3 linked regions of the Homo sapiens genome follow. The protein of the gene in region 2 purifies or fractionates together with the protein of the main gene of each other region. This does not show direct contact. Each region holds a gene or a part of one and is shown on either strand. Other genes may lie near its edges. The genes, in order: TRAP1, DNAJC8 and SLC4A1AP.

Evidence for each region.
Region 1: the proteins of DNAJC8 (region 2) and TRAP1 purify together in Homo sapiens (affinity purification with mass spectrometry; 2 studies listed by BioGRID, with this or other methods). This does not show direct contact.
Region 3: the proteins of DNAJC8 (region 2) and SLC4A1AP purify together in Homo sapiens (affinity purification with mass spectrometry; 2 studies listed by BioGRID and IntAct, with this or other methods). This does not show direct contact.

What each region holds. Positions count from the first base shown.
Region 1 is NC_000016.10:3,714,435-3,722,866, reverse strand, and holds the start of TRAP1 (heat shock protein 75 kDa, mitochondrial isoform 1 precursor), read left to right. Parts: upstream 1-5,342; 5' UTR 5,343-5,358; coding exon 5,359-5,446; intron 5,447-8,432.
Region 2 is NC_000001.11:28,201,861-28,209,465, forward strand, and holds part of DNAJC8 (dnaJ homolog subfamily C member 8), read right to left. Parts: intron 6,554-7,605; coding exon 6,482-6,553; intron 3,490-6,481; coding exon 3,398-3,489; intron 1,963-3,397; coding exon 1,887-1,962; intron 1-1,886. UniProt on the Homo sapiens protein: Suppresses polyglutamine (polyQ) aggregation of ATXN3 in neuronal cells.
Region 3 is NC_000002.12:27,673,814-27,681,418, forward strand, and holds part of SLC4A1AP (kanadaptin), read left to right. Parts: intron 1-1,718; coding exon 1,719-1,879; intron 1,880-3,481; coding exon 3,482-3,551; intron 3,552-3,924; coding exon 3,925-4,111; intron 4,112-7,605.

The sequences.
Region 1 (8,432 bases), on a different chromosome or scaffold from region 2:
AGTGCTTTGCCGTTGATCTAAATTGTGCATAAAACGGTGCTTTTGATGGGCTCACATCTTTTTATAGAGGACTCCTCGAACTCCTGACCTCAAGTGATCCACCTGCCTCGGCCTCTCAAAGTGCCAGGATTACAGGTGTGAGCCACCACGCCCGGCTACTTCCTTCCTTTTTATGGCTGAGTAATATTCCATTGTATGAATAGACCACATTTTGCTGACCCATTCATCGTTCATGGTTACCTGAGTTGCTTCCACATTTTGGCTATTGTGAATAAAGCACCGGGCATTTTTCACGGCCCTCAGCTGACCCCAGTGGAAGGCAGTGGCTTCATATGGGCAGCCTCGTATTGGCCATAGAGGTGGGCAGGAGACTTGGGGGTTCTTCCCTTTCCCTCCCCAAGCAGCTCCCAGTCATTCTCCACTAATTCAAGTCAAGTACGTCTGCGTGTAAACATTTTTTCCTCTTTCTAGATTCTTGGTTTACGCGGAGCCTGAAGTCCATGTGTGGCCACCTTAGGACATGCCTTGGATCCCTCAGTACCTTACAAAGCCACAGGTCCAGCCGGGCGCAGGGGCTCACGCCTGTAATCCCAGCACTTTGGGAGGCCAAGGCAGGCGGATCACGAGGTCAGGAGATCGAGACCATCCTGGCTAACAGGGTGAAACACTATCTCTACCAAAAATACAAAAAAATTAGCTGGGCATAGTGGCACGTGCCTGTAGTCCCAGCTACTTGGGAGGCTGAGGCAGGAGAATCACTTGAACCCGGGAGGCGGAGGTTGCAGTGAGCCAAGACTGCGCCACTGAACTCCAGCCTGGGTGACAGAGTGAGACTCCGTCTCAAAAATAAAAAAATAAAAAAAAGTCACAGGGCCCTGGGCTAGCAGAGGCCCCAGGACCACAAGGCTCTGAGGCTGAGGGTTTGTCTCTGAAGGCTACAGGCCAACAGGACAGAAGGCTCTGGGGGTTTTTCTGGAACTTGGTAGATTTGCCCTCCACAGAACTTGGGGCCTGCCAGTCTTGGCAGAGGCCCCCCACCCTTAACTAAAGCCCAGGTTTCCCTCCTTTTGCCAAATATCACTTCCCCTTGTTGAAACTGGCCTGGTGTGGTGGCTTAAGCCTGTAATCCCAGCATTTTGGGAGGCCGAGGCAGGCGGATCACTTGAGGTCAGGTGTTCGAGACCAGCCTGGCCAACATGGTGAAACCCCGTCTCTACTAAAAATACAAAAATCGGCCAGGCATGGTGGCGGGTGCCTACAATCCCAGCTACTCAGGAGGCTGAGGCAGGAGAATCACTTGAACATGGGAGGCAGAGGTTGCAGTGAGCCGAGATCACACCACTGCACTTAAGCCTGGGCAACAAGCACGAAACTCTGTCTCAAACAACAAAAAACAAAACAAAACAAAAAAAGAAATAAAAGGCCTAAGCCAGATATATTGCCCCATGGACCAATGTGACAGCTGTTACAAAACAGAGGATTGGCCGGGTGCGGTGGCTCACGCCTGTAATCCCAGCACTTTGGGAGGCAGAGATGGGCGGATCACGAGGTCAGGAGATCGAGACCATTCTGGCTAACATGGTGAAACCCCGTCTCTACTAAAAATTCAAAAAGAAATTAGCCGGGTGTGGTGGTGGGCGCCTGTAGTCCCAGCTACTCGGGAGGCTAAGGCAGGAGAATGGAGTGAACCCGGGAGGCAGAGCTTGCAGTGAGCCGAGATCACACCACTGCACTCCAGCCTGGGCAACAGAGCAAGACTCTGTCTCAAAAAAAAAAAAAAAAAAAAAAAGAGAGAGATGATTTCCTGAATGGAGCGAAAAAGGGATGAAATGTGAAGCCGAGACACCCCCCACCCACCCCCATTCCCTGAGGACATGCTGGAAAGGGCTCTGCCTGGAGTGTGGTGATAGGGAACACAGGCAGGCCCATGCAGGCCTATAGGAGGAGGCAGAAGGAGTTTGGAAAGGATTGTAAATATGTGCATGTGTGTTGGTAGGGGGACCACTGGAGGATCTGAGAGACGGAGTATGATCCGGCTGCTGTGGAGGATGGGAGGCTGGCAAGAGCGGAAGCAGGGGGCCTGTCAGGGCTGCTGGAGTGGTCTGGGTGACAGGACCCTGCTCTTCCACCCAAATCTGCCCACCCTCTTTCCATTCCCTTCTCAATTGCTTAAGCTGGGAACTTGCCACTTTCCACCTGGAAGCGTTTCCTGACACATCCTCTTCCACCCAGCTCTGTCCCGGCCCCACTGAAGGTCACTCTCCTGGCTCCTGTGCTTCTCTGCAGCACGTGCCACGAGCTGGAGTCGCTATTTTTGTACAGTTATTAGAGTGTGGCAGTGAATCTTCAGTGTGCCTCCGAATTACCTGGGAACCTCAGTGGAGCCGCCTGGGCCCCACTCCGGGACTGAGGAGGTGCCGGGAAATCGGCATTATGAGGCTGCAGCTGGGTCTGGACCAAATGTTAGACCAGGGTGTATGGTCTGAATCTCCAACTAGTCTCTAACCTCCAGCAAGGTGTAAAGCAAAAACAAATTCTTTTTTTGCTGTTGTTTTTTGAGATAGAGTCTCACTCTGTTGCCCAGGCTGGAGTGCAGTGGCACGATCTCAGCTCACTGCAACCTCTGCCTCCCGGGTTCAAGCGATTCTCCTGCCTCAGCCTCCCGAGTAGCTGGGATTATAGGCATGTGCCGCCATGCCCGGCTAATTTTGTATTTTTAGTGGAGACAGGGTTTCTCCATGTTGGTCAGGCTGGTCTTGAACTCCCAACATCAGGTGATCCGCCTGCCTCGGCCTCCCAAAGTACTGGGATTACAGGCGTGAGCCACCGTGCCCAGCCGGCAAAAACACATTATAAGTCCCCCAACCCATGGAATGGATCATTCCTCTCCACCAAGGGGATTTCAAAGAAACCTAAAAAACTAGTTCAGGCCATAATTGGAAGGATGGGGTGGGTCCTGCCTCATTACACCCTCCACCCCTTGGAAATGAGGCACAACTGACCAGCGTTAACATTACAAAGGACTTTTTTTTTTTTTTGAGACGGAATCTTGTTCTGTTGCCCAGGCTGGAGTGGGAGTGCAGTGGTGCGATCTTGGCTCACTGCAATCTCTGCCTCCTGGGTTCAAGCGATTCCCCTGCTTCAGCCTCCCGAGTAGCCTCAGCTGTACACAGGTGCACACCACCACACCCAGGTAATTTTTTTTGTTTTTGAGACAGACTTTCACTCTTGTTGCCCAGGCTGGAGTGCAATGGTGCGGTATCAGCTCACTGCAACCTTCACCTCCTGGGTTCCAGCGATTCTCCTGCCTTAACCTCCTGCGTAGCTGGGATTACAGGCATGCGCCACCACGCCTGACTGATTTTTTGTATTTTTAGTAGAGACGGAGTTTCTCCCTGTCAGTCACGCTGGTCTCGAACTCCCGACCTCAGGTGATCTGCCCGCCTCAGCCTCCCAAAGTGCTAGGATTACAGGCGTGAGCCACTGCTCTTGGCCTAATTTTTGTATTTTTAGTAGAGATGGGGTTTTGCCATGCCGACCAGGCTGGTCTCAACCTCCTGACCTCAAGTGATAAGACCACCTTGGCCTCCTAAAGTGCTGGAATTACATGCGTAAGCCACCATGCCAGGCCACCTTTGCAGGTCTTTTCCTGATCCTGAGGGTCTAGGAATTTTTAACGGTCTGAATAAACAATATTTGCGAAAACATTTGCCATCTATTACCTGTAAGGGTGGTCATCTATGAGACTTCCTCTACATAATAAGAACCTTGGTCTTCACAACCTGTTTTTTGTTTGTTTGTTTGTTTGTTTGTTTTGAGACAGGGTGTGGCTCTCTTGCCCAAGCTGGAGTTCAATGGCACGAACTTGGCTCACTGCAACCTCTCCCTCCTGGGCTTAAGCAATCCACCCACCTCAGCCTCCCTTGTAGCTGGGATTACAGGCCTCCGCCACCACATCCGGTACAGGTATGTTTGGTACAGACAGGGTCTCACCATGTTGCCCACGCTGCTCTCCAACTCCTGACCTCAAGCAATTCGCCCACCTCGGCATCCCAAAGTGTTGGGATTACAGGTGTGAGTCACCGTGCTCGTGCCCACAACCCCTTATCTTCACCCAGACACTCTTTTTATTGATTCCAGGTCTGTATAACTCAACTCTTTTTTTTCTTTTTTTTGTTTTCTTTTTTTTTTTTTTTTGAGACGGAGTCACAGCTCTGTCGCCCAGGCTGCAGTGCAAGTGGCACGATCTCGGCTCACTGCAACCGCAGCCTCCCGGGTTCACGCTATTCTTCCGCCTCAGCCTCCCCAGGAGCTGGGACTACAGGCACGTGCCACCTTGCCCAGCTAATTTTTTGTATCTTAGTAGAGATGATGGGTTTTCACCATGTTGGCCAGGCTGGTCTCGGACTCCTGACCGCAGGCAGTCCGCCCACCTCAGCCTCCCAAAGTGCTAGGATTACAGGCGTGAGCCACCGCGCCCAACCAGAACTCAACTCTTTTAACCAATTGCCAATCAGAAAGTATCTGAATCCACCTATGACCTCTAAGTATTTCACCCTTTGAGTTGTCCTGCCTTTCCACACGGAACCAACCTATGTCTTACATGCATTGACTGATGTCTTATGTCTCTCTAAAATGTATAAAACCAAGCAAGCTGTAACCCAAGCACCTTGGGCCAAGTTCTCAGGACCTTTTGAGACTGTGCCTCCCTCCATGCACACTCATATTTGGCTCAGAATAACCTTCTAAATACTTTAGAGTTTGACTCTTCTCGACAAGGACAAGAGAAGTGGAATAAACGAATAACCGCAGTTTTCCTGGTGGTATTGGTCACTGGGTTCAGGTTTTGGAGTAGTAGCCAGTCAAGCCTGGAATCCCCTTCCTCATTCGCTTTAGCTTTTTGTCCAGTCTTGGTTTGCAAGAGACTTGCAGCGGCCTAGACGGATGGCCGGGATTCACAAAGGTCGCAGACACGGGAACTGCTTCTTCCCCAGCGTCGCCTCCACACCCTCGCGTGGATACTGACATCCGCCCCATTCCAGGAATGCGCACAGCTAGGCGCAGCCGGCCAGCGTGGGCCGGGGGCGGCGGGGCCACCTCCCCCACCTCCGCGCGCAAGGCCCGTCGCCCTTGACAACGCGATCCAAGGTCACGGAGGTCCCACCCCCAGGCCCGACCGTCCACGAGACGGGTAGTACCCCGCCACGCGCCCGAGCAGGCAGCTGCCCGGACAGCCCGGCGCCCGCCGTGACGTCACCGCCCCGCGCCCGAGGAAGCCCCGCCCCGCGCAGCCCCGTCCCGCCCCTTCCCATCGTGTACGGTCCCGCGTGGCTGCGCGCGGCGCTCTGGGAGTACGACATGGCGCGCGAGCTGCGGGCGCTGCTGCTGTGGGGCCGCCGCCTGCGGCCTTTGCTGCGGGCGCCGGCGCTGGCGGCCGTGCCGGGAGGTGAGGGCGTCCTGGCTGGACGGGCAGCGGGCGGGCCGGGCCACGGAGACGGCAGGGACGTCCCTGTGCTCCGGGGAGCGAGGCGCCGGCACCTGCTTCACAGGCGTGGGAGGTCCGGCGAGGCCAAGCGCGGCAGACGCGTTTACTTTCGCTCCGCTCCTCGCCAGCTCCAGCTTGGCTGCCTTTTCCTCGGCTGGACTCCCCTCGCCACCCGCCCATGGGAGCCCTGAAGGAGGCTGGGTCTTGGGGGGTCGCGGGGTCGGGCGGAGCGGCTGCGGGGTCGTCCCTCCTGGAGCTTCGGTCCAGTCAGGTAGCGCACGTGCAGGTGGAGCCGCTGCGGAGCGCGGAGTCTTTGCGGGTGCATGTTGCGGGGAATGGACTCACTCGGGGTGATCGTGCTAGTTCCATGGATCGTGCTTTACCCCTCCCCGCCTCCCAGTAGCGCACTGAGGGTTCATTTGTTAATTCGTTCATTGGACGCACATGTGAGCGCCCGCTCAGTGCCCGGCGCCGTGCAGGTTCTGGGGACGCCACAGTGAACAAAACCTATAGCAGTCATCCGGGTCCCCAGAGCAGGTGGACTCGATGTCGTTGACGCAGCTGTGTCCTCGGGGCCTGGAATTGATGGATGCGCCAATAAATGTTTGTAAAACAGAGAGAACGACCCTAACCTCTGCTTTCCCAGTCCCCACTCGGAGGTAACAACAGTGAAAGTTTCGGCATTGCTTCGGGGCTGTACACAGTGTTATACGTGTAAATATAAATGTCTGCGTATAAGTATTTTTTATTCTAAAAAGCCTAAACCATGTATGCATTGTGCTACGTTGTACTTCAGAAAATTTTAACGCTCCCAGCATTCTTTCCACATCTTTTCATGTCAGTGTATACAGGTCCATGTGCCTTCCAGTGACCACACAGTATTCTGTATGATGGACGTGTCATTTGTTTAAACATTGTCCTATTAGTGGACGCAATAAAGGTTATTTCAGGTTTTACTTTTTATTACAATGCTGCATAGAATGGGTGAGTACTTAAATATTTGTTCACGTGCGGTATTTCTTTAGCCTTACATAATTAGAATTTTAGAATTGATATTTCAGAGCCTATGCATTTTTGAAATGTTAGCAGATACTGCCAAATTGTCCAAAAAGGCCTTATCAATTTATATCCCCTTTAGCAGGCATCAAGACTGCCTATTCCAAAGGTATTTTCTTCAACGCTGAATCTTATGTCTTTTCAAAACCAGTGGTCTATAAAAGATACCTTGTGGCCGGGCGCGGTGGCTCACGCCTGTAATCCTAGCACTTTGGGAGCCTGAGGTGGGCAGATCAGGAGTTCAAGACCAGCCTGGCCAACATGGTGAAACCCTGTCTCTACTAAAAATACAAAAATTAGCTGGGTGTGGTGGCGCGCGCCTGTAATCCCAGCTTCTTGGGAGGCTGAGGCAGGAGAATCGCTTGAACCCAGGAGGCAGAGATTGCAGTGAGCTGAGATTGCACCACTGCACTCCAGCCTGGGCGACAGAGTGAGACTTCATCTCAACAACAAAAATAATAATAATTTTCCCTCAGAAAGTGATGCTGTTGCTCTCTTCTAGCACCAGTGTCTGATCAATTATTTATTTATTTTTTTGTCTTTATGAGGTGGGGTTTCACTATGTTGGCCAGGCTGGTCTCCAGTGCCTGACCTCAAGTGATCTGCCTGCCTTGCCCTCCAAAATGCTGGGATTGCAGGCGTGTGTCACCGTGCCTGGCCAACTGTTCTGTTAATTTGGTTCTCGTTTCTTTTGTAGCTGACTCGGGTTTTTTCCCCCTTGGAGGTTAAGATTTTTTCTCTTTGTCGTTTGTGGTCTCGCGTCCACAGGTGTTTGTGATTCATGCTTTGTATCATGCACTGTCCCTTCCATTTGGAAAATATGTCAGTTTTCAGCCCAGGGACATTTTAATTCTGTTTCTTTATCTCTTTTTCTTTTTCTTTTTTTTTGAGATGGAGTCTTGCTCTGTCACCCAGGCTGGAGTGCAGTGGCGCGATCTTGGCTCACTGCAAGCTCCGCCTCCCGGGTTCAGGCCATTCTCCTGCCTCAGCCTCCCGAGTAGCTGGGACTTTAGGCGCCCACCACCATGCCTGGCTAATTTTTTGTATTTTTAGTAGAGACGGGGTTTCACCCTGTTAGCCAGGATGGTCTCGATCTCCTGACCTCGTGATCCGCCCACTTCGGCCTCCCAAAGTGCTGGGATTACAAGCGTGAGCCGCTGTGCCCAGCCCTTTATCTCTTTTTCTTAAAAATTGTCTCTCTCCTCTCGTCCTCCATCTTCTGGTGCGGTGGTTCAAGCATTCCTCTGCCTGAGTCTAAGAAATGGAACATGTTCTTGGCAGCCTTCTGCGTGGCAGGTGCCCTTGTCATTGTCACCTGTGTGGATGAATGGGAAGGTAAATTGTTTGGATTGATTGAACGATGAGAGAATTTAGCTAAGAAAATACATGTCTTGTGCAACAGGGGAGAAAGAATAGTTTAGGCAGATCCACCTATGTAGAAAATCCAGACCTCTTGAAATTTTTTTCTTTTCTTGGGAAAGTATTTCCAGGTTGTAGCATGTGCCTGGCTTCAGGTGTGCGTGTCTTATGTCTGTGGAATCCTCTCGCCCATGCTACGCTGCCTCAGTCACCCATGAGCTCAGCCCTCTTACCCTTTCAGACCTCACTGACCCCTGACACTGCCAGCCCTGTCACTTGCCCTCAGAATATCTTATTTGATTTTTTTTGAGCCGGAGTCTTGCTCTGTTGCCCAGGCTGGAGTGCAGTGGTGCAACCTCAGCTCACCACACCCTCCGCCTCCTGGGTTCGAGTGATTCTCCTGACTTCGCCTCCCACGTAGCTGGGACTACAGGCGCATGCCACCACACCCAGCTAGGTTTTGTATTTTTAATAGAGATGGGGTTTCACTATGCTGGCCAGGGTGGTCTCGAACTCCTGACCTCATGATCCA
Region 2 (7,605 bases):
GTGGATCACCTGAGGTTGGGAGTTCGAGACCAGCCTGACCAATATGGAGAAACCCCATCTCTACTAAAAATATAAAAAGTTAGCCGGGCATGGTGGCGCATGCCTGTTAATCCCAGCTACTCGGGAGGCTGAGGCAGGAGAATCACTTGAACCTGGGAGGCGGAGGTCGCAGTGAGCCAAGATCACGCCATCGCACTCCAGCCTGAGCAACAAGGGCAAAACTCCGTCTCAAAAAAAAAGTAGAATAGAGCTTTCTTCCCACTCCCAAGGGCCCAAGAAAGTGTCATAGCACCCCTAGAACGCAGGATGAGCTGCAGGTTGCAAGAGGAGGACGAAATCAGTAATAATCATCACAACACTGAGGCCCCATTTGTTGGGGACCTCGAGGCTAGACGTTTAACATGGTTTTTTTTGTTGTCATTGTTGTTGTCTTTTGTGAGATGCAGTCTCGCTCTGTTGCCCAGGCTGGAGTGCAGTGGTGCGATCTCGGCTCACTACAACCTCTGCCTCCCGGGTTCACATCATTCTCCTGCCTCAGCCTCCTGAATAGCTGGGACTAAAGGGGCCCGCCACCACGCCCGGCTAATTTTTTGTATTTTTAGTAGAGACGGGGTTTCACCGTGTTAGCCAGGATGGTTTCGATCTCCTGACCTCATGATCCGCCTGCCGTGGCCTCCCAAAGTGCTGGGATTACAGGCATGAGCCACCTCACCCGGCCTTTTTTTTTCTTTTTTTTTTTTTTTTTGAGACGGCTCTGTCACCCAGGCTGGAGTGCAGTGGCACAATCTTGGCTCACTGCAAGCTCCACCTCCTGGGTTCACACCGTTCTCCTGCCTCAGCCTCCTGAGTAGCTGAGACTACAGGTGCCAGCCACCACACCTGGCTAATTTTTTGTATTTTTTTAGTAGAGACAGGGTTTCACCATGTTAGCCAGGATGGTCTCAATCTCCTGACCTCATGATCTGCCCGCCTTGGCCTCCCAAAGTGCTGGGATTACAGGCTTGAGCCACCACGCCCGGCCAGCATATGGTATTTCTAATTGTCACCAAAAGCCGACTATGGTGTGTACTGCTACCAGTGCTTCACAAATAACACTGAGGCTCAAAAAGGTTAAATGATTTTCTAAAAGCCATACAGCTAGCTAGCAGTACAGCTACTCTTTCCACTGCACCTTTCTGCTGCCCCCCAAAACTTGGATGGCTGCTCCAAAGCCAGTACAATGCCTAGCGAGTTGTGTAGGGGTGGCCACTAGGACCTCTACCTCATTATCATTTTTTCTCTTTCCATACATGAAGTGCAACAGAAACAAAGTCATCAACTCTGATTAGCCAGCCCCTAACCATGAGTCCTAAACCCTATAGAAGAAAAGACCGAATGTTGCCACAATCCTTCTGTCCAACCACCTGAAGCATATAACCAGGGTGTCAAAGAAGAGTCAAGTTCAAAGGTTCTAACTCTCTCTGCAGGTAGGACACTGTGGGCACAAGAACTTCAGCATCTACTAACAGATCTCTAAGCAGCACAATACTCTATGCTTACCCCCTAAATTAAAAGTGCAATCCATTTTTCTTGAGCCCACTGGGCAGCTGTGCCTACTACAATCTAAAAAACCATTCAGGGTGAAACTGTTAGTGTGCTGTAAAAAGAAATTAAACAATAATTTTTAAAAATAAATTTTAAAAAAGCCATTCAGGGATCCTCATCGTCCTTGCCAAGGCTACAGAGCTTACAGGAGGCTGAGGCAGGCCCAGCCTCATTCTTCACCTCTCCCACTCTTCCCCACATATCCCACTCCCCTCTGACTGCCCCACTCAGTCCTGGGAGCGCCACAGGAACCAAGCTGCCTTATTCTGGAATTAGAATCCCTGGCCACCTTGGAAATTTACCTCAAAGTTTTTCTGCCACTCTCTTTCCCGTTTGGCTTTTTCTTGAGCTTCAATCTCTTCTTCCCTTTGTCGTTTCCTAGGAGGAAAACCAGATCATAGTATTTATATGATACTTACAGACTGAATTAACCATACAAGGTGGCATCTCCCCACAGAAGCAAGCATATATAGTAAATCAATTCCCTAGAAGTCTACAAAGATGGCTGTCTGGAAAGGGCTCATAGCATTTTCATGAATGTCTCATTCTAAAACACGCAGATCAGACTTGGGCATGGCTGTGGGGAAAGACATAAATATCCTTGTTACACAGATAAAGTAACTAAAGCCCAGCCAAGAGCAATCTGAGGTTTTGGGCTCTTTCAGTGACAAAGCTATGTCGAGAACACAGGCCACCTTATTTCAGCAGAATGACCATTATAAAGCCAAAGTTCTTAAGATCTCTGGACAAAACCCTATCCGAAAACAAAGATATTTCACACAACCTCAACTAGCAAATTTTAGTTACTGGTACCTACCAAGCAACAATATAAAATACATACAGAAACAAAACTCGGCCGGATGTAGCGGCTCATGCCTGTAACGCCAGCACTTTGGGAGGCTGGGGCAGGTGGATCATGTGAGGTCAGGAGTTCGAGACCAGCCTGACCAACATGGTGAAACCCCGTCTCTACTAAAAATGCAAAAATTAGCCAGGCAGGAGAATCACCTGAACCTGGGGAGGTGGAGGTTGCAGTGAGCCAAGATCATGCCATTGCACTCCAGCCTGGGCAACAAAAGCGAAATTCTAACATTTCTGATGTTCAAGAGAAATCATATTTTAGAACATTAAACATTTTGTTACTGATGACACTACAGTACTATACACTCACCAAAGCTGTAGCCACTAGCCCCACAAAAGGTTCTGGCTTCAGTAACAATGGCCTTAATAACTGCTTATTTCACTCCAGGACATCAGGAAGAACACACACAAGGCTCTTGATTATAAATAAACTCCCTGGCAGCATGCAGTGGCTCATGCCTGTAATCCTAACACTTTGGGAGGGCAAGGCAGGCAGATCACGAGGTCAGGAGATCGAGACCATCCTGGCCAACATGGTGAAACCCTGTCTCTACTAAAATACAAAAAATTAGCCGGGCATGGTGGTGTACACCTGTAGTCCCAGCTACTCAGGAGGCTGAGGCAGGGGAACTGCTAGAACCTGGGAGGTGGAGGTTGCAGTGAGCCAAGATCGCACCACTGCATTCCAGCCTGGCTACAGAGCAAGACTGTGTCTCAAAAAAATAAATAAAAAATACACTCCCTAAGGACAGACCTATTCAATAATTCTCAAAAGTCAAAGAAAAAAACTACTTACCCTGGTGATTCAAAAGCTTGACTGTTTTTAGGTAACTATTTTTATAGTCTCTTAAATGGTATACTATATAATTCCCTCATTAGGAAAATCACCAAAGACCAATGTTAGTTAATCTAGGTATTTAAATATGGTTTAAATGAATATACTGATATGTACCTTTCATGCATCTCTTTGGCTTCTCTCTCTTTCCTTTTAATTTCCAGCTCTGCAAAGAGTTTCATTGTCTGTTTATATACAGCTTGTTTGAACTACAGGAAAATCAAGAACAAAAGAAAATCAGAGTAAATATTTTTACCAGCAACTTGAACCATGTACTTTCACCTGGAGTCCAAGATAAAGCAGATTAAAACCTGGCACAGGCTGTGCACCGTGGCTCACATCTGTAATTCCAACACTTTGGAAGGCCAAAGGCAGGAGAATCGTTTGAGGCTAAGAGCTTGACTGCCCTGGCAACATAGTGAAACTCTATTGCTACAAAAAAATTTTTTTTAAAACTAGCGTGCAGGCCAGGCGCAGTAGCTCACACCTGTAATCCCAGCACTTTGGAAGGCCAAGGTGGGCAGATCACCTGAGGCCAGGAGTTCAAGACCAGCCTGGCCAACATGGTGAAACTCTGTCTCTATCAAAAATACAAAAATTAGCCAAGCATGTTGGTGCGTGACTGTAATCCCAGCTACTCGGGAGGCTGAGGCAGGAGAATCACTTGAACCCAGGAGACAGAGGTTGCAGGGAGCTGAGATCATGCCATTGCACCCCAGCCTGGGCAACAAGAGGGAAACTCCGTCTCAAAAACAAAAATTAGCGGGGCATGGTGGTGCACACCTGTAGATCCAGCGTTTCAAGAGGCTAAGACAGCAGGATCACTTAAGCCCTGGAGTTTGAGACCACCCTGAGCAACATAGTGAGATCCCATCTCTACAAAAAATATTAAAAATAAAACATTAACCAGGTGTGGTGGCGCACACTTGTAGTCCCAGCTACTCAGAAGGCTGAGGTGGGAGGATCGCTTGAGCTCAGGAGGTCAAGGCTGCAGTGAGCCATGACTATGCCACTGCACTCCAGCCTGGACAACAGAGCAAGACTCTATCTCTTTTTTAAAAAAGTATATTATATGATAGTCTTACAATGATAGGAACAGAAGCTATTATTATTTATTATTATTGTTTTTGAAACAGGGTCTCAATCTGTCACCCAGGCTAGAGTGCAGTGGTGTGATCATAGCTCACTGCAGCCTCAACTCCTAAGCTGAAAAGATCCTCCTACTTCAGCCCCCAAAGCACTTGGATTATAGGTATGAGCCACCAGAGGTTATTATTAGAATGTATAATATCCACTAAGGTGGGAGGATCACTTGAGCCTAGGAGGTCAAGGCTGCAGTGAGTTAAGATCATGCCACTATATTCCAGCCGGGGTGACAAAGGGAGACCCTATCTCTAAAAAGAATTACAAAAAAATAAGTGAACGTAAGTGACCCAGCCCCTGTCACACTAAGTTAATGAAATCACAATGCCCTCCCTACCAGTTTTTAATTCTTTATTTTCAAGAGTTCTTAAGAACACAGCTTATGTTATTCTACCTTTAAATATTTTTCTCCAGATATAAAGTATTTTAAATAGACATGGAAGTACAAAAGTAATCTGTCATGCATATTTAATAGTGCCTAAATTCTAAAATCAGACACTGGAGCAAAGAGTGATATATGGAGAGAAAGGAAAATAAAGAAGTCCCTAAATCTCTGTGACTTCTCTTTTATCCTGTTACCTGCTAGACACTGCTCACTAAAAGCAATGCTTCAACCCCAGTCCCTAATAAAGACAAACATCAAAGGGATAAAGGAGTCTGTAATGAATAGCTCAGTATATTTAAAAGCTCCATACACGGGATAGACAGACACTGCGATTTTATATTTTTTATATTTCTCTTTTTCCAAATTTTCTATCATTAGCATGTGTTCTTTTATAATCAGGAAAAAAAAAAACAACTGAAAAAAATTGGGCCAGGTGCGGTGGTCCACGCCTGTAATCCCAGCACTTTGGGAGGCCGAGGAGGGCAGATCACTTGAGGTCAGGAGTTTGAGATCAGCCTGACCAACATGATGACATCCCGTCTCTATTAAAAATACAAAAATTAGCCAGGCTTGATGGCGGGCATCTGTAATCCCAGCTACTCAGGAGGCTAAGGCAGGAGAATCACTTGAACCTGGGAGGCAGAGGTTGCAGTGAGCTGAGATCGCACCACTGCTCTCTAGCCTGGGCAACAGAGTAAGACCCCGTCTCAAACAAATACATAAATAAATGTATATTTATATGTTTTAAGTTCAAATAAAATGTTTGTTGTTGTTGTTGTTGTTGTTGTTGTTTTAAGACAGAGTCTTGCTATGTCACCAGGCGGAGGTGCAGTGGCGCGATCTTGGCTCACTGCAATCTCTGCCTCCCAGGTTCAAGCAATTCTCCTGCCTCAGCCTCTCGGGTAGTTGGGATTACAGGCACGTGCCACCACGCCCAGATAATTTCTGTATTTTTAGTAGAGACGGGGTTTCACCATGTTGGCCCGGATGGTCTCGAACTCCTGATCTCATGATCCACCCGCCACGGCCTCCCAAATTTCTGGGATTACAGGCGTGAGCCACTGCGCCCAGCCAAATAAAATGTTTTTTTAAAAAATAAAAATTAGGCCGCGCACGGTGGCTCATGCCTGTAATCCCAACACTTTGGGAGGCCGAGGCGGGTGGATCACCTGAGGTCAGAAGTTCAAGACCAGCCTAGCCAACATGATGAAACCCCGTCTCTACTAAAAATACAAAAAAATTAGCCAGAGGCCGGGCAGGGTGGCTCATGCCTGTAGCCTGCAATCCCAGGACTTTGGGAGGCCAAGGCAGGCGGATCATCTGAGGTCAGGAGTTCGAGACCAGACTGACAAACATGGAGAAACCCCATCTCTACTAAAAATACAAAATTAACCGGGCATGGTGGTACATGCTGGTAATCCCAGCTACTTGGGAGGCTGAGGCAGAAGAATCGTTTGAACCCAGGAGGCAGAGGTTGCAGTGAGCCGAGATCGCGCCATTGCCCTCCAGCCTGGGCAACAAGAGTGAAACTCAGTCTCAAAAATAATAAATAAATAAATAAATAAATGTGAAATAGCATATATTCATCATTCTTTTGGCTTCTGTCTCTGTAACCCACCAATTCGTAGACACAATCACACAAGATACAGTGGCTTTTCCTATATTTAACTCACCAGCTCAGGATCATCCTCCTCTACAATTGTAGGTTTTCCTTCCTTCTTTAATTGTTTTTTTCGCTCTTTCACCTAAAAAGAATTTTTTTTCATCAAAAGACGAGCATCTGTGCTTTGAGAATATCCACTGGGCTGTACACATACAATATATTTAACTTTCTATAGGCACGGGTATAGCAAAAAGTTTTCATTAAAAAAAAAAAGAGCCCCTCCCCTCCCTCCTCAAAAGAACAACAGAATCAAGGAAAATTAGGAACCACAAGTCCTTTTTCTAATCTCATCTAAAATCCAATCTACCAGGAAGAATGAAAGATGAAAGGGGACCAACGGGAGGTTGTCCCCAACTCATCAGATCCAAAAAGTCTTTGAAACAGACTACTTATTTACCTTTCTTGGCTTGTGGTTATGTGTTTAGAGCAAAGCAAATATATCTGTCAAGTTTTAGAAGAAGCTACAGAATCTGTGGCATTATGTCCAAGTAGTTTTTCTGGCATTTCTATAACTGCATTCTTGATCACTTTCACCATGGAACCTCCTTAAACCACATATCATATTAACTGATACTTTTATCACATTGGCCACTACTGAGATAAAAAATAAATAAATAAATATACGAATTCATACAAGAATGACACTACTCCATGAACTAACCAGTCTATTATACCAGCAAAGGCCAAGTACCCTCTAAGCTCAGAAAGGCCCTACTGCCACCCTGTGGTCAGGAAGCCTAAGGATGACTTTCTTACAGGTGAAAGACATACGAAGCCACAATGATTTAAGGAGAAACTGTCAGGCACTTTCCCTATTTCTACCAGGATAGGGCCTACAAGTGCCATTTCCAACACATGACCCGCAGGATATAGTTATGGGCCCTTTGTCTCCTCTTCTTATCCATTTTCCTCACCGAAACTGGATTCATTATTATGGTTATAAAGTTGTCTCAGATTTCAAAGCTCTTCATGTGAAAAGTCATCCAATCACAATTGAAGCAGCTCTTACAAATGACCTCAAGATTCTTGCCCCAGCAAGTAAAAAGTTAAAAGACCTTTCTTACCTTGGGAAAGCCATACTGACATTTCCCACCACATTGGAGACTTATGTATGCCCTCAAGAGCAAACAAAAA
Region 3 (7,605 bases), on a different chromosome or scaffold from region 2:
AGAAGTCCAATTCAAACTAGCTTAGGGGAAAGGTCATTGGCTGCAGAAGCTGGGAAGAATAGCTCAGGATGAAGGAACAGGAGTGAAGGAACAACTGCATGAACCAGAACCTCAAGTTCTGAAACCATAACTTAGTACTACCAAAGTAGACTCAGCATCACCAGGACATATACAAGTTGTGTGTGTGTGTGTGTGTGTGTGTGTGTGTGTGTGTGTGTCTGTGAGTGAGTCTGTCTCACGAGTGCATTTTTAAACTTTGCAGACAGATTCTTACCCTGTGCTGAAAAGCTGATTGCTTACAGCCCTGAACTTAACAGTCTCTCACTTTAATAACCTCATTGTAAAGAGAGCCTCTTTGCCCCATCTCTAAATATAAATATGAGGGAAAGAGTCTTACTGATTTGGCTTTGGTCCTATGACTATCCCTAAACCAGATAAAATGGGGGAGGAATTTTCTAGGGGAAAGAGGTACTTTTATCAGAACAAAGGGAGTAGAATGTTGTAGGGTGAACAAAAAAGTAATAGCTGTCATAGTTTCTTATTGATGGACTCTTTACATATTCACTGTTATAAATACTATTGCATTGATATTTATAGAATAAATTCCTAGAAGTGGAATTGCTGGATCAATGCATTTTTAATGGCAGATATTGTAGGCTTGACCATCAAAAAGGTTGTATCAATGTACATTCCCACCAATTATTAATCTTTTTATGTTTTTCTAGTCTAATAGATGAGAAGTATCTAATTTTTAAATTTGTACTTTATTTTTTTTTAAAGTAACATATTTAAAAATATTTATTGTATTTTTCTGTGAACTGCTTTCATTATCCTTTTTCAAATTTTCTTTTGGGTTATTGTCCTTTTTCTCATTTTTCATTTTCCTTTTTTCCTCATTGATTTTTTTTTTTTTTTGAGATAGAGTTTCACTCTTGTCACCCAGGCTGGAGTGCAGTGGCGCTTTCTCGGCTCACTGCAACCTCTATCTCCCAGGTTCAAGCAATTCTCCTGCCTTAGCCTCCTGAGTAGCTGGGATTACAGGCACCCGCCACTATGCCCATCTAATTTTTGTATTTTTAGTAGAGACGGGGTTTCACCATGTTGGTGAGGCTGGTCTTGACCTCAGGCGATCCATCCCCCTTCAGCCTCCCAAAGTGCTGGGATTACCATGCCTGGCCATCCTCATTGATTTTTAAAAGCCGTTTGCTCATTAAATAAATTAACTATTTGCTTTAATGAAAAATTATTTAATAAGAAATTGTGGGAAAATATACATAACAGAAAAGTGTACCATTTTAAGCATTTTAAGAGTATCACTCAGTGGCATTAAGTACATTCACAATATTATGGAACCATCAACACTGTTCATTTTGGAACTTTTTTATCATTCCATACTGAAATTGGTATCTGTTAAACACTAACTTCATTCTCCCTCCTTCCCAGCCTCTGGCAACCACCATTCTACTTTTCTGTCTCTATGAATTTGACTACTTTAGGTATCTCACATGATGCAGTAAGTGTCCTTTTATATATGGCTTATTTCACTTAGTATAATGTCTTCAAGGTTTAGCCCTTTGTTTTTATACGTAGTTTGGCAGCTTGTAGAACCTCTCTTTCAGTAGTTGATGGTGACATTTTAAGCTCCTTGCCTACTTGCCTTCTTTCTTTTTCTTTTCTTTTTTAAAAACTTATTTATTCATCATTTTATCTACCTCTAGTATCTCGGAAAAGGAAAGCCAAGAACTGGGAAGATGAAGACTTTTATGATAGTGATGATGACACATTTCTTGATAGGACTGGCCTGATTGAGAAGAAGCGTCTGAACAGAATGAAGAAGGCTGGCAAGATTGATGAGAAGCCAGAGACCTTTGAATCATTGGCAAGTTTTATTTATGGAAGTAGCTGTGGTATTTAATAGTTTAATTTTTAATAACATAATGTATTATTTAAATATGTTTTATGATAATTTTTAAAGTAGTAGCATTGAAATCTGATACTGAAGTATAACTTTTGTGGTCTGTTAATTTAATGGTAACAGACAACTAGTCTTATCCAAGTTGTTTGAAAAAAATATGGCTTGCTGCTAGATCCTTTCCTTCAGGATATTGATCCATTAATTAACATTCTTTGGATATGATATTACCTCTCTCAAAAGGAAAGGAAAAAGTTCCAAGTTAGGGCGTTCTGAGGTGAAATTGACTTTAGCCTTCTGGCAGTCAAGAGAAGTCAAAGGAATTTTGAAGAATGTAGTATGGTAATATGTAGTCTGAAACAGTATGTTCTTCAGGAAATTATCACAAGGTGACGTGTTAATGGGTAGGTAACAGACAATAATAGGCAGGTAATAGGCTACCTATTAGACTAGAAAAAAACATAAGATTAATAATGCAGAGCTTGACCAGAATATGGAGAAGTAGACTCTCAATTGGTGGGAATGTACAATACAACCTTTTAAGTGATCAATCCTACGACATCTGTCAGTATTAAAAATGCATTGATTCAGCAATTGCACTTCAAGGAATTTGTTACAGGTATTAATTTATAGTAGGATTCAGAGCTTAAAACATTACCCAACATCTATCCTTTTGATTTATGTGAAAACAAATGCCTTGAGCTCTTTCTTCTGAGTAAAATGAAGTCCGAGTTATTCATTCTGTTTAATTCTGTGTTTTTTAATTCAGAAATAAATTAAATTTGGATTTAACACATAAAAAGTGTTAACTCCTGGCTGGGCATGGTGGCTCATGCCTGTAATCCCAGCACATTGGGAGGCTGAGGCCGGTGGATCACCTGAGGTCAGGAGTTCGAGACCCACCTGACCAATGTGGTGAAACCCCACCTCTACTAAAAAAAAAAAAATACAAAAATTAGACAGGCGTGGTGGTGTGTGCCTGTAGTCCTAGCTACTCTGGAGGCTGAGACAGGAGAATTGCTTGAATGCAGGAAGCAGAGGTTGCAGTGAGTCGAGATCACGCCATTGCACTGCAGCCTGGGTGACAGTGCGAGACTCCATCTCAAAAAAAAAAAAAAAAAACTATTAACTCTGGCCAGGTGTGGTGGCTCACACCTGTAATCCTAGCACTTTGAGAGGCTGAGGCAGGCTGATCATGAGGTCAGGAGATTGAGACCATCCTGGCCAACATGGTGAAACCCTGTCTCTACTAAAAATACAAAAAGTAGCTGGGTGTGGTGGTGCACACCTGTAGTCCCAGCTACTTGGGAGGCTGAGGCAGGAGAATCGCTTGAACCCGGGAGTCGGAGGTGGCAGAGAGCCGAGATTGCACCACTGCACTCTACCCTGGCAACAGAATGAGGCTCTATCTCAAAACAAAAAAAAAAGTGTTAACTCCATAAGTAGCAGTTTAACTGGACTTTTGAATTAATCTTCTTAAAACTTCTAGTAAGAATAATTAAAACAGGAGGATGAAAAACAGTTTGAAAGAAGAAAAACTTTGTAACCCTGTTGATTTGGGTGTTACAGGTTGCAAAATTAAATGATGCTGAAAGGGAACTTTCTGAAATTTCTGAGAGATTGAAAGCCTCAAGCCAAGGTAAGTTTTTCATCAAATATTTATTAATATACCACATATAGTGCTCTATGCTAGGCACTGGGGCTACATTAGTTAATAAGAAATACCATACAGAATATGGAGCCTTTTAAAGGAGCAACATACCGTTTTAGAACTAGAAAGAACATTATAAATCATTTGGTTTAACCTCTTTATTTAATTGTTGAGGGGAATGAAGCACATTGAGACAAAATGACTTCCCAAGGTCTCATGGCTATAACCTGTTCCTTATTCCTATTACTAGTGATGTCCTCTGTCCGGTTTTATGTTAGTGACTTTTATATGGAAACTTTGGCTGAATTTTAAAATATTCAGGATCATCTTTCTAAACATGTGTTATTCTTTTCTTGGACAGTTCTATCAGAGTCTCCATCTCAGGATTCTTTAGATGCGTTCATGTCAGAAATGAAATCAGGCAGTACATTAGATGGTGTGTCCCGGAAGAAACTTCACCTGAGAACTTTTGAACTGAGGAAAGAACAACAGAGACTTAAAGGGTTAATAAAAATTGTAAAGCCAGCAGAGATTCCAGAACTAAAAAAGTAAGTCTTAGTTATATTTGGAATTCTAAATAAGTATGGTAGCATAGATAACATTTTCAATTATCGCTTTATCTTCTTAAATAATCATTATATAATACAAATGTAATGCAAGGAACCCTTTAAAGCACAGAAAGCAGTGGTTTCATAGAGTAACTAAAAACCTGTTTCATATTTGTGAAATATAGACTGATAGAGGATTTTCTGAGAAAACTATATTGATTTCTGATTCATTGGAAGGTTCCGAAGTTTTTTTTACTTAATCTTTTAGTGTAGAATAAACTCCTTTAAAAAGCATCATGCACAAAAAGCTAATTTATCTAATATAAAAAGACCTCTGAGGCTGGGCGTAGTGGCTCATACCTGTAATCCTAGAACTTTGGGAGGTTGAAGCAGGCAGATCACTTTCAAGACCAGCCTGGGTGATATGGCACAACCCTATCTCTACAAAAAATAAAAACATCAGCCAGCCATGTTGGAGCACACCTGTGGTCCCAGCTACTTGGGAAGCCGAGGTAGGAGGATCGCTTGAGCCCAGGAGTTCCAGGCTACAGTGAGCTGTGATCGTGCCATTGCACTCCAGCATGGGTGACAGAGGAAGTTCCTGTCTCAAAAAAAAAATTAAATTATTAATAAAAAGACCTCTGAATGATAAGTAGACAGCCAACCACCCAGGAGAAAAATGAGTAAAGGATGTCTACTCACAGGCCACAGGAAAAGAAATACAAATAGCATCTTTTATACAAAGATGCTCAACTTCATGATCATAAGAGAAATACAAATACTACAACCTAATACCTTTTTTTTTTTTTTTTGAGATAGGGTCTCACTGTGTCACCCAGGCTGGAGTGCAGTGGCACAGTGACAGCTCACTGCAGCCTTGACCTCCTGGGATCAAGTGATCCTCCTGCCTCAGCCTCCCAAGTAGCTGGGACCACACGCATGCTCCACCATACCTGGCTAATTTTTAATTTTTTGTAGAGATGGGGTCTTGCCATGTTGCCCAAGCTGGTCTTGAACTCCTGGCCTCAAGGTATCTGCCCACCTCAGCCTCCCAAAGTGCTGGGATTACAGGTGTGAGCCACCACACCTGGTCTTAATAGCATTTTTATATATGAATTTGATGAAGATTAATTATGATTTTATACTGTGCTGATGAGGCTGACAAAAAGGCACTTTCTTATATTGTCATTGAAGGACAAATTAGTACATTCTCTACAAGACAAATTGGCAGTCTCTATCCTGATTACAAATGCACATGCCCTTTGATCTATTTCATTTCTAGGAATTTGTCCCTCACATACTTAGGAAATGATGTACAGCATTGTTTGTATTAATAGTAGTAAAAAATTAGAAATCCCCTAAATGTTTATCAAAGGGGATGGATTAAATAAATTGCGGCCAGGTGCTGCGGCTTACGCCTGTAATCCCAGCACTTTGGGAGGCTGAGCTGGGCGGATCACGAGGTCAGGAGATCGAGACCATCCTGGCTAACATGGTGAAACCCTGTCTCTACTAAAAATACAAAAAATTAGCCGGTTGTGGTGGTGGGTGCCTGTAGTCCCAGCTACTTGGGAGCCTGAGGCAGGAGAATGGCGTGAACCAGGAAGGTGGAGCTGGCAGTGAGCCGAGATTGCGCCACTGCACTCTAGCCTGGGCGACAGAGCGAGACTCCATCTCAAAAAAATAAATAAATTATGGTGTAGATATACAATAGAACACCATATAGCTGTTGAAAAAAAAGGCAACTATATATAAGATACAGAAACACTATCAAGATAAGTAACAAAAGCAAGGTGCAGAACGGTGTGTATAACAGGCGCTGTCTGTAAAAAATGATGGTGGGGGAAGAATACATAGATAAGTAGGCCATGGTTATGTTTATAATATCTGTTTAGGTCGGGTTCCCTAAAAACAGACTGAATCGGAGATTCATCTGCAAGTGATTTATTAAGAGAGTGCTCTCAGGAGAAATCTATATGGGAGTGAGGGAAGCAGGAGAGGGCAGGAGAAGAAGCTGGGCTAAGATATGGTTTCAGGAGAGCCTGAATGGCACCACAGATGCCATGGAGGCATGGGGCTTGGGTTTCGATACCCTGTCCCCCCAACCCTTCATTGGTCATAGGCTGCCGGTGACTGGGGGGTGGGAGGGGCTCACAGCAATTCTGGGAAGGGTGCAGGTGTGAGCCTTTAGCAGCCGATGTCTGCAGTAGCTGTTTGGCCTGATAAAGGGAATCTGGGAGGGACAGCATCTGCTACTGTATCTCTGGAAAGATTCGTTAAAAATTAATAATATTGATTGCCAATGGGGAAGGCAACTGGGTGGCTGGGGGACAGCAATGGGAGGGAGACTTTTCACAGTATATGTGCTTTATACTTGAGTTTTGAACATGTGAATATACTTTCTATTCTATTCAGATATACTGAATTTGAAAAGAAAATCCTGTACCAAATAGCCATACCACTTTAGGTCCAAATTTACTGTAATGTAGTTGCAGTTCTAGTTCTAAATAACAAATAACTGGAAAAAGTAAGAATCATATAATAATTTTGTTACAGTAAAACTATTTGTTAATAAAAGTGGCTGGGGACGGTGGCTCACACCTGTAGTCCCAGAACTTTAGGAGAGTGAGTGAGGTGGGAGGATGGCTTGAGTTCAGGAGTTTGAGACCAGCCTGGGCAACATAGTGAGACCCTGTCTCTACAAAAGATAAAAACTTAGCTGGGTATGGTGGTGCTTGTCTGTAATCCCTGCTACTTGGGAGGCTGAGGTATCACTTGAACCTGGGAGAGTGAGGTTGCAAGACCCTGTCTCAAACAAACAAACAAACAAAAACAAAACAAAAACAAATCTCTGCTTTGGAAAACAACAACAACAACAACAACAACAACAACAACATTTGGGGCAAGAAGAATTAAAAAAAAAAAAAAACGAAAACGAAATATGTCTCAGCTTCCTCCAGAGCCTCCTCTCCTGCTATCAGTCTGTGTGCTTGCCTGGTTTTTCCTCCCTTTCCTATTTTGGATACTGGTCTAGATGTGTATCTTCTTCCTCCTCTTTTCACTTATGGGTTGAACTTCCAAACTTTCTGCCTCCTACCCTAACCCCTGCAAGCAATCTTGATTGTGATTCCATCTTCTGCTTTTTCATCTCCTTTGAGCCAGTCTTAGCTTATCCTCTAGGCCAGCCTGGCTTTTTAATGTAGCTGAAAACATCTGTGTTGCTGTTGCTTCTGTCTTTCTATGCCAGAGCCTTCCTGAGGCCTGTGGGGAAGGGTGTGAAGGATAATGATTTGACAAAATGTCCTTCATGGCCAGGCAGGCAGCATTCTTCTGGTGGCCTTAGCAAGGGAATGGGTTTTATCTCTGGTAGGGAGAAAGGGGCTTGAGGCTGGACTTAAGAGTGCTACTAAGGGGATAAGACTTAGGTAAAAGAAGGCAGTAGTAGCAAGTGGGGCTTCAGGGAGGGCCAGGTAGCTAACATCTGGTATGGGTCA